Linked DNA regions of Homo sapiens. The protein of the gene in region 1 interacts with the protein of each later gene in a biochemical or structural test. Each region holds a gene or a part of one and is shown in the gene's direction. Other genes may lie near its edges. The genes, in order: BCL11B, NR2F1 and SUV39H1.

What was found.
Region 2: the proteins of BCL11B (region 1) and NR2F1 form a complex in vitro, tested with the Homo sapiens proteins (2 studies listed by BioGRID).
Region 3: the proteins of BCL11B (region 1) and SUV39H1 form a complex in vitro, tested with the Homo sapiens proteins (one study listed by BioGRID).

The regions. Positions count from the first base shown.
Region 1 is NC_000014.9:99,174,598-99,178,347, reverse strand, and holds part of BCL11B (B-cell lymphoma/leukemia 11B), read left to right. Parts: intron 1-2,152; coding exon 2,153-3,750. UniProt on the Homo sapiens protein: Key regulator of both differentiation and survival of T-lymphocytes during thymocyte development in mammals.
Region 2 is NC_000005.10:93,586,099-93,589,848, forward strand, and holds part of NR2F1 (COUP transcription factor 1), read left to right. Parts: intron 1-1,000; exon of another isoform or gene 1,001-1,132; coding exon of another isoform or gene 1,133-1,145; intron 1,146-1,818; coding exon 1,819-2,346; intron 2,347-3,750. UniProt on the Homo sapiens protein: Coup (chicken ovalbumin upstream promoter) transcription factor binds to the ovalbumin promoter and, in conjunction with another protein (S300-II) stimulates initiation of transcription. Binds to both direct repeats and palindromes of the 5'-AGGTCA-3' motif.
Region 3 is NC_000023.11:48,706,672-48,709,604, forward strand, and holds the end of SUV39H1 (histone-lysine N-methyltransferase SUV39H1), read left to right. Parts: intron 1-765; coding exon 766-899; 3' UTR 900-2,345; downstream 2,346-2,933. UniProt on the Homo sapiens protein: Histone methyltransferase that specifically trimethylates 'Lys-9' of histone H3 using monomethylated H3 'Lys-9' as substrate. Also weakly methylates histone H1 (in vitro).

The DNA.
Region 1 (3,750 bases):
CCCAGACACCCTGGAGAAAGAAGATAGCCTCAGAGGTGCTCCTTGAGCTGTTTTTAAGAGGGATGAGGCCGAACTTCAGAATTCCTTTTTCATTTCTGTCCTCCCTACCACCGTCTTCTCATCACCAAACACACAGAATAGGAGAGGAGAGGGAAAGAATCCCTATGTAATGCCAAACTTGTAACAGCCTGGCTCGGTTTCTAGTGTTGGTGTCCTGGGCCAACTGGTTCTGAGGTCGCGGGGGGAGTCTCCACCCTGCCCCTCGGACAGCACGAAGCCTTCTGTGACGCTGCAGGCATGCGATGTCTTGGGGAGGTCCCGGCCCCTCAGAAACTGGCAAGTCCAGTTTCAGGCAGAGGCACAGGCCACACTCAAGACCTTGGATGGAATTCAGGGTATTTGGTCCCCGAGTCACTTGATTTTTAAAAGATGGTTTCCAAATGAAAGTTTATGTGCCTATAAACACTGCTAAGAGTGCAGCCTTCCAGAAACATAATTAGTGGGTGGAAAACAAAAATGCTGTCTGCCTAGGATTTCAGAAGGCCTGTAATCGATTGGTGGAGAGAGTGAGACAGGGGACTGTTTTCTCCACTTCCCATGGCAACTTACCGATATTGGGAAGGGTCATTCATTTGCACGTTTGACTTCACCAGAGCTTGTGGCCCCTGTACTTTAGCATCTGTGTTAAAATCTTCCAGGTAGATGAAAGTTTGAGAAAACAAAAGGGATCTTTCAAGATCTCGCATGCCATGTCTTCTGCTGGATCTGAGCTGGGATTCTTGTTCCTCTTGCATCCCCAGCTAGTGAGTGCAATGCTGCAAGACGGGTCCTGTCTGCACCGTCTCTTTTATGCAGAGCATTAGGAGAGGTACATACTGGAAAAGCGGCGAGCTTCACCCCCAGGTGCAGGAGGGCACTTGCAGGATGGGTTCCGGAGGAAATGTTCAGCCTCCATTTTGTGATTGTCTCAGTGATGGACACAGACGATGACGTTTTGGCTCCATACCACGAGTGTTCGCTACAATTTGCTGCCCGTGTCACCAGAGCCAGTTGCTAACACATCAGCATTTGCCACTGTTCATCCTGACTGCCCTGTCAGATGTGAGGATGTTCTTTCATTGCTTAGTATTCTGGCAGAGGACTTTGAAAGACTCATGTAGGCCAGTGTGCCCCCGCCTTCCCTGGGGTCTGGAGGTGGAATTCCAAGCGGTGTTTGGGCGTGTGTGTGAGGACACGGGGTGGGGGCAGCTGTCACAGTAGTAGCCGGTCTTCACAGCATGTTAAATTTTTTCTGTTCCTAGGAATCCATATTCAGGTGTACAGTGCTTTCTGCACAGACGGTGGTGTAGGAAACACGAGAATTTCCTATAGCTAAAAATCCCAAATGTTGCAGAGGTATTGCAGCTATTTCTCTTAAAAAAAAAAAAGTTTGCAGGATAGTACAGTTTGATTTGTGTTTCTGTACAACTCCCTGGAATCAAATATTATCAGAATTGGTTGTTCTCAAAGGGGTCGGTGATCTTGCCCCCCTCCCTGGGAAGATTCGGCAAGGCCTGGAGACATTTTTGGTCCTCGCAACCGGGGGAGGTGGATGCTCCTGGCATCTATCTAGTGGGTGCAGGCAGAGGATGTTGCTAAACATCCTGCAATGCGCAGGACAGCCCCCACCGCCCAAAGAATTAGGATGTAAATGTCAGTAGTGCCTTGACTGAGAAGCCCTGGCCTAGATGGTTTCGGGTGTGGAGCATCCTCGAGGGCTGGGATTTGCCAGGGCTGTTACACAGTCCAGCCTTGACAGAATTCCTACTACTGGACCGTATTCTCACAAACACGATCTCCCGTGGCCTCGGAGGTAATGGAGATCAGAATCCCTTTTCTTTGGGGGAGCAAGGCGGGTCTTACACAATTGAAGTAAGTCGCTGGCGCCCGGGTGGCCAGGGCGGCCCGCCCACAGACCTGCGTCTTCGGCCCCCCAGCCAGGAGGAGACAAGGCCGGGCCTGCTTGCAAGCGGCCCTGCAGCCCCTGTCAGGCAGGGCACTGGGATCCCGGATCAGCCCGGGCCGCGTCCCCCAGGCCAGTGGCCCTGCGGTGCCCGCGCCCCGCTGCCGCTTCTCACGCTGTCTCTGCCTTTCTGTCCGTGTGTTTCCCCAGGTAAAGATGAGCCTTCCAGCTACATTTGCACAACATGCAAGCAGCCCTTCAACAGCGCGTGGTTCCTGCTGCAGCACGCGCAGAACACGCACGGCTTCCGCATCTACCTGGAGCCCGGGCCGGCCAGCAGCTCGCTCACGCCGCGGCTCACCATCCCGCCGCCGCTCGGGCCGGAGGCCGTGGCGCAGTCCCCGCTCATGAATTTCCTGGGCGACAGCAACCCCTTCAACCTGCTGCGCATGACGGGCCCCATCCTGCGGGACCACCCGGGCTTCGGCGAGGGCCGCCTGCCGGGCACGCCGCCTCTCTTCAGTCCCCCGCCGCGCCACCACCTGGACCCGCACCGCCTCAGTGCCGAGGAGATGGGGCTCGTCGCCCAGCACCCCAGTGCCTTCGACCGAGTCATGCGCCTGAACCCCATGGCCATCGACTCGCCCGCCATGGACTTCTCGCGGCGGCTCCGCGAGCTGGCGGGCAACAGCTCCACGCCGCCGCCCGTGTCCCCGGGCCGCGGCAACCCTATGCACCGGCTCCTGAACCCCTTCCAGCCCAGCCCCAAGTCCCCGTTCCTGAGCACGCCGCCGCTGCCGCCCATGCCCCCTGGCGGCACGCCGCCCCCGCAGCCGCCAGCCAAGAGCAAGTCGTGCGAGTTCTGCGGCAAGACCTTCAAGTTCCAGAGCAATCTCATCGTGCACCGGCGCAGTCACACGGGCGAGAAGCCCTACAAGTGCCAGCTGTGCGACCACGCGTGCTCGCAGGCCAGCAAGCTCAAGCGCCACATGAAGACGCACATGCACAAGGCCGGCTCGCTGGCCGGCCGCTCCGACGACGGGCTCTCGGCCGCCAGCTCCCCCGAGCCCGGCACCAGCGAGCTGGCGGGCGAGGGCCTCAAGGCGGCCGACGGTGACTTCCGCCACCACGAGAGCGACCCGTCGCTGGGCCACGAGCCGGAGGAGGAGGACGAGGAGGAGGAGGAGGAGGAGGAGGAGCTGCTACTGGAGAACGAGAGCCGGCCCGAGTCGAGCTTCAGCATGGACTCGGAGCTGAGCCGCAACCGCGAGAACGGCGGTGGTGGGGTGCCCGGGGTCCCGGGCGCGGGGGGCGGCGCGGCCAAGGCGCTGGCTGACGAGAAGGCGCTGGTGCTGGGCAAGGTCATGGAGAACGTGGGCCTAGGCGCACTGCCGCAGTACGGCGAGCTCCTGGCCGACAAGCAGAAGCGCGGCGCCTTCCTGAAGCGTGCGGCGGGCGGCGGGGACGCGGGCGACGACGACGACGCGGGCGGCTGCGGGGACGCGGGCGCGGGCGGCGCGGTCAACGGGCGCGGGGGCGGCTTCGCGCCAGGCACCGAGCCCTTCCCCGGGCTCTTCCCGCGCAAGCCCGCGCCGCTGCCCAGCCCCGGGCTCAACAGCGCCGCCAAGCGCATCAAGGTGGAGAAGGACCTGGAGCTGCCGCCCGCCGCGCTCATCCCGTCCGAGAACGTGTACTCGCAGTGGCTGGTGGGCTACGCGGCGTCGCGGCACTTCATGAAGGACCCCTTCCTGGGCTTCACGGACGCACGACAGTCGCCCTTCGCCACGTCGTCCGAGCACTCGTCCGAG
Region 2 (3,750 bases), on another chromosome or scaffold:
CGTTCACTGGTTCCCTCTCTTCTTCACGGAGCTGGGGCCGCCTCCTCCAGAGCTGTGGCCTTGTTTTCACCCCTCTACTTTGAAAGGAAAGTTTGTGACTGAACCGTGCTTTCATAGTTGTGTCATTTTTTTTAAAGCATGATACTCGTTTTATTTCTTCATCAAACTCCACCCTCTGCTTAAATACTGCATACAAATTACAATTTACAACGGCATTTACCGATCCTTCTGATTTGGCCGTAATGCATAGACTGCAGCTAGCATGAGCTTCCACATCATTTAATCCCTGTGTTGTATGGGTTTGTTTTTTTTAAAAAAAAACACAACTTTTGATGTTGTATTTGGATATGCTTCATGTTCATGTGGCAAGAGATGCAGTACTTTTCTTATAAATATATTTAGCCGTTTACAGTTAAAGTTTATCTCTTGACAATCATTAAAGATGTCTTATAGTCAAATTAGCGAACCAGTCAATTTTGCAGAATGCAGATTACTCCTTCTTGTAATTGACTTTAAAATTATATTTTATATGCCACAAGAAAAGAAATTGAATTCCTTCAGATCTCAAGGAGCAGACAAATATGACTACTTCATTTCTAGCTCCAGGGAGATTTTGTAGGCATCTGAAAAAAAAAAAACTTTGAATTGTACTCTCACTTAATTGAAAAATAACTGCCAAGTTCAAAACTATAATTAGAAAAAAGTATTCTAGGCATTATGTTTCAAGAGCTTCAATTGCACTGGAACTTGCATTAAAATTAGAATCAAAGCAAACTTAAGAAAATAGAACAAAACCTGAAATAAGATAGCTACATGTACATGAACATATCTATATTAATTTGTTGGGGGAAGAGTTCAGTAGCCCTAACTTTTCCTAAAGTTGTCTTTGTTTATATGGCAATTTAAAACGCTGGCACTGTTGAAGTAAAACATACACATTTAAAAAAAAAAAAAAAAAAACTTTGGTCAGCTTTAAGAACTCAAAGCATGCTTACGTTTTGCATTCAGATGGTTAATGAATCCAGTGTTTTTGCAGTTGAAAGCTCGTGCATTCACTGGGCAAAAGCTGGCTGCAGGTTGCAGTGGCACCGCGCAGGACAGACATTAATTATATTTCCTACTTTTTTCAATAATGTTTGGCTACTGTAAGTTCAACTTTTTTTCTTGAAAATTTTCAATTTTCTGTTGCTTTTAATAGTGAGAACTTTGTATGGGGCGACGGGGAGGAGGGGAGAAGGGAGGGGTGCAGGATACTTGTTCTCTACTCAAAAGTTGTAAGTGGTTAGTAGGATATGTAACTTGTGTCTATTTTAAGAATTATTCTATAGCATTTTAAGAGAATGTGGAAACATTTTATCAGCAAAACGCTGCTTGCTTGCAAATGAGGAGGCCGCTAGGCATTTGCCTAGAACCACAACCTTTCTCCGGTTTCGCCTTTTTTTAACCCTGATTTTTTTTTTCCATTCTGGAGGGGTGAGTGGGGTTTCATTTATCTGTGTGTTCCCCCGTGGTGGCTTAGGGGTTGGATGACACTTTCTTGACCTTGCCAGGGTTGGGGCCCTGGAGTCAGGCCTAGCTCCGGCGGGGCTGACGTGGCCAGGGGCTCAGGCAGTGGCTGGACACACTGAGCTGTGGAGCTGGAGGGCCTCACCCCAGATCTCCTAGCGGTGTGGACTGTGAGAGCGAGCCGGAGAAGATGCGCGGGGCGCGTGTGGCTGCGGGAAGAGCTTCTGCATTGTGTTGGGTACGCTGCGGCGCGGCAATGTTCGCAAGCTCCCTGGATGCACATTGCCTCTTTTCTCTCTTTCTTTTTGTCAGCGGTTCAGCGAGGAAGAATGCCTCCAACCCAGCCCAATCCAGGCCAGTACGCACTCACCAACGGGGACCCCCTCAACGGCCACTGCTACCTGTCCGGCTACATCTCGCTGCTGCTGCGCGCCGAGCCCTACCCCACGTCGCGCTACGGCAGCCAGTGCATGCAGCCCAACAACATTATGGGCATCGAGAACATCTGCGAGCTGGCCGCGCGCCTGCTCTTCAGCGCCGTCGAGTGGGCCCGCAACATCCCCTTCTTCCCGGATCTGCAGATCACCGACCAGGTGTCCCTGCTACGCCTCACCTGGAGCGAGCTGTTCGTGCTCAACGCGGCCCAGTGCTCTATGCCGCTGCACGTGGCGCCGTTGCTGGCCGCCGCCGGCCTGCATGCCTCGCCCATGTCTGCCGACCGCGTCGTGGCCTTCATGGACCACATCCGCATCTTCCAGGAGCAGGTGGAGAAGCTCAAGGCGCTACACGTCGACTCAGCCGAGTACAGCTGCCTCAAAGCCATCGTGCTGTTCACGTCAGGTGAGGCTGCGGTCGCGGGGAGGGCAGGCCGCGCCGGCAGCGAGCGCAGGCCCCGCGCCGCCCGGGCCTGGCCTTCGGAGCCTCCCGCGCGGCCGGTGCGGGGCGGGCCGGGCCCTCGCTGGACACTGAGCCTGGCCCGGGTCTGTGACCCCCGCGCGGTGACCGGCTGGCCGCGCCGCTGCCATCTTGGGAGCGCGGCGGTGCGGGAACCGAGGCGGCGCGGGTGCGGCCGGCGGGCGGCCGGGCCTAGTCGCCCGGACCCCTACGTGGGGCCGCGGCTGCCGAGGGTGTGTGTCTGAGGCGGGGGGGCGGTGCTGTGGATCCGTCTGGCTGCGCGCGCGCGCGCGCGTGTGTGTGTGTGTGTGTGTCTCTGTGTGTGTGTCTGTGTGTGGTGCGTGTTATGTGTGAGCCAGAGCTCAGCGTTTCTGGGGGAGGCGAGGGAAGGAAGAGAACGTGGGAATGTGGCTTCTTACCCTGTGTGGCACTCTCCTTGAATGAATTTCCCGACACAGAGAGACACAGAGAGAGGTGGAAAGAGAAGAATACGCACAAATAAATCATAATAATCCCGCTTTATCGCTGCCTGATTTTCCCTTATCGGAAACCATTCATGTTTGCAGTTGGTGAGGTTATTGAGGGTCGTAAAAAACGGATTCGATCTAAACAAGAAAGATAAAAAACAAAAGCAATGCTGTAGAACCCGCAAGTATGGGAGGATTCCCCGCCTGAAGATGAATTCCAAAGCTATGCAAAACACATGAACACTGGAAATTTAAGAGTGCCTTAAAAAATATCAAATTATGTGTAGGCAGTGGTAACATGCATGTTAACAATTTCTCTTATGATAGATGGTTCAAATTAACTTCCAGAAAAGTGCATTAACGTTTCCTTTGAAGGGCTCTGGTCTGAGCCTCCGAGAACAATCCCCGCTTTTTATTATTGTAACCTGTAAGAGGGAAACATATAAACACCCAGGACAGCAGGTAATGGGGAGAAATAGAGACAAAGCCAGAGAGGAGGCTGGTGGCAAGTAGTGCTGCTTAGACTGGGTCTTGGGCCCTGCCCACTGTGAGTAGGGTTAGCTGCAGTTTTACCACCATTATTGGCAGTATTGTTTTTAATTCCTCCATTCGGAGAACAAATAAACCATCCTAATAAATCTATCCTAGAACCAGGCTTTCCAATGGCCAAATTAAAACCATTCTTGAACAGGGATAGCAAAATCCCTTTCATAAGGCCTTGTTGAACAGTAAGCAATGGTATAATCTATCAATATTTCTTGGCTTTCATGTGTGAAGAATTGTATTTACATTGTATTAAAATGACTCCTAAATTTGCACAATATTGTAATGTAGCAAATGTAGTATTAATATCGATCTGAACAGCAGATAATTTATTTAGACA
Region 3 (2,933 bases), on another chromosome or scaffold:
GGACACAAGGACCCCTCCCAAAGGCACACCAGTCACTCAGAGAACCAAGGAAAATTCTTTAGCGGGAGCTTTAAGATGCTCTTCCTGACTCCCAGTCCCCCATTCGGACTACTAGACCCCTGCCTACCCCTCGAGTCCCCTCATTCCCAGCCCCTGAACCCTAACCCTGAGGCATTCATACCAACTTCTCCCAAGATTCCTGGAGAGTTAAGAAACTCCTGACTCCAGTCTTGACTGAGTTTCCCTCATCCCCCAGCCCCTCCCCACTCCTAGCTCCCTTTGGCCTTCTTCATCCCAAGCCTCTGGACACCCTTGTGGCCTCCAGCCAGTCCCCTCCTTGATAAGCTAGCCACCTCTGAGACCCTCAAGGGCAGGTCTTTGGCAGGAGAGTTCAGATGTACCTCTGGATGCCCAGGTGGCCCTCTATTCCTGCCCCTGCCCCCCCCCACACACCTAAAACGACCCTCCTGGTTCCTTGACGGCTCCCTGCCTCCCCCAGCATTCTTCAACCCCTGGCCTGAACAACCTCCAGTGCTGAGCCCTGGCCCTAGCCCCAAACCACCAACCCTAAGATCTCCCAACTCAAATCCCAGAGTTGCTCCCAGCCCCAAAGATCCTTGGTCTCATGGTATAAAGGGTAGTGGGACCCTTCATCCAGGCCTTCTAACAAGTCCCCTGCCTCCTTCCCTACCTTCCTCCCTCCCTCCTTCTCCCCCTCCCTCCCTGCCTCCTTCCCTCCTCTCCTCCCTGGCTGTGACTCCACAGTGGACCCCGTGGACATGGAGAGCACCCGCATGGACTCCAACTTTGGCCTGGCTGGGCTCCCTGGCTCCCCTAAGAAGCGGGTCCGTATTGAATGCAAGTGTGGGACTGAGTCCTGCCGCAAATACCTCTTCTAGCCCTTAGAAGTCTGAGGCCAGACTGACTGAGGGGGCCTGAAGCTACATGCACCTCCCCCACTGCTGCCCTCCTGTCGAGAATGACTGCCAGGGCCTCGCCTGCCTCCACCTGCCCCCACCTGCTCCTACCTGCTCTACGTTCAGGGCTGTGGCCGTGGTGAGGACCGACTCCAGGAGTCCCCTTTCCCTGTCCCAGCCCCATCTGTGGGTTGCACTTACAAACCCCCACCCACCTTCAGAAATAGTTTTTCAACATCAAGACTCTCTGTCGTTGGGATTCATGGCCTATTAAGGAGGTCCAAGGGGTGAGTCCCAACCCAGCCCCAGAATATATTTGTTTTTGCACCTGCTTCTGCCTGGAGATTGAGGGGTCTGCTGCAGGCCTCCTCCCTGCTGCCCCAAAGGTATGGGGAAGCAACCCCAGAGCAGGCAGACATCAGAGGCCAGAGTGCCTAGCCCGACATGAAGCTGGTTCCCCAACCACAGAAACTTTGTACTAGTGAAAGAAAGGGGGTCCCTGGGCTACGGGCTGAGGCTGGTTTCTGCTCGTGCTTACAGTGCTGGGTAGTGTTGGCCCTAAGAGCTGTAGGGTCTCTTCTTCAGGGCTGCATATCTGAGAAGTGGATGCCCACATGCCACTGGAAGGGAAGTGGGTGTCCATGGGCCACTGAGCAGTGAGAGGAAGGCAGTGCAGAGCTGGCCAGCCCTGGAGGTAGGCTGGGACCAAGCTCTGCCTTCACAGTGCAGTGAAGGTACCTAGGGCTCTTGGGAGCTCTGCGGTTGCTAGGGGCCCTGACCTGGGGTGTCATGACCGCTGACACCACTCAGAGCTGGAACCAAGATCTAGATAGTCCGTAGATAGCACTTAGGACAAGAATGTGCATTGATGGGGTGGTGATGAGGTGCCAGGCACTGGGTAGAGCACCTGGTCCACGTGGATTGTCTCAGGGAAGCCTTGAAAACCACGGAGGTGGATGCCAGGAAAGGGCCCATGTGGCAGAAGGCAAAGTACAGGCCAAGAATTGGGGGTGGGGGAGATGGCTTCCCCACTATGGGATGACGAGGCGAGAGGGAAGCCCTTGCTGCCTGCCATTCCCAGACCCCAGCCCTTTGTGCTCACCCTGGTTCCACTGGTCTCAAAAGTCACCTGCCTACAAATGTACAAAAGGCGAAGGTTCTGATGGCTGCCTTGCTCCTTGCTCCCCCACCCCCTGTGAGGACTTCTCTAGGAAGTCCTTCCTGACTACCTGTGCCCAGAGTGCCCCTACATGAGACTGTATGCCCTGCTATCAGATGCCAGATCTATGTGTCTGTCTGTGTGTCCATCCCGCCGGCCCCCCAGACTAACCTCCAGGCATGGACTGAATCTGGTTCTCCTCTTGTACACCCCTCAACCCTATGCAGCCTGGAGTGGGCATCAATAAAATGAACTGTCGACTGAACAAACCAAGATGTGAGGTGCTTGTGTGGGTGGGGGTTGAGGGGATAGAGGCTGGGAGCTGGGTTTGCCCAGGAACATGTTCCTCAAACCTCAGCCATTTGACTCTAATCCTCACAATTTCAGCCCCCACAGCATATCACTTACACCATCATCTATATAACATCTTGACCTAAAATAAGTTTGTTTTATACTTAAACTTTAAAATGCACTTAAGGCTGGGTGTGGTGGCTCACATCTTTAATCCCAGCACTTTGGGAGGCCGAGGCAGGCAGATCGCTTGAGCTCAGGAATTCGAGACCAGCATGGGCAACATGGTGAAACCACGTCTCTGCTAAAAATACAAAAATTGGCCAGGTGTGGGGGCATGTGCCTGTACCTGTAGTCCCAGCTACTCAGGAGCCTGAGGTGGGAAGATTGCTTGAGCCTGGGAGGTGGAGGTTGCAGTGAGCTGAGATCTCACCACTGCACTCCAGCCTGTCTGTCTCCAGAAAAGAGCCAAACCCTGTCTCAAAACAATGCAATTAAATTGACTGGTTTAGACTGGCCGTAACTGGTTTTGACTGGACTTGACCGATCTTGACCTGTGTTGGCCG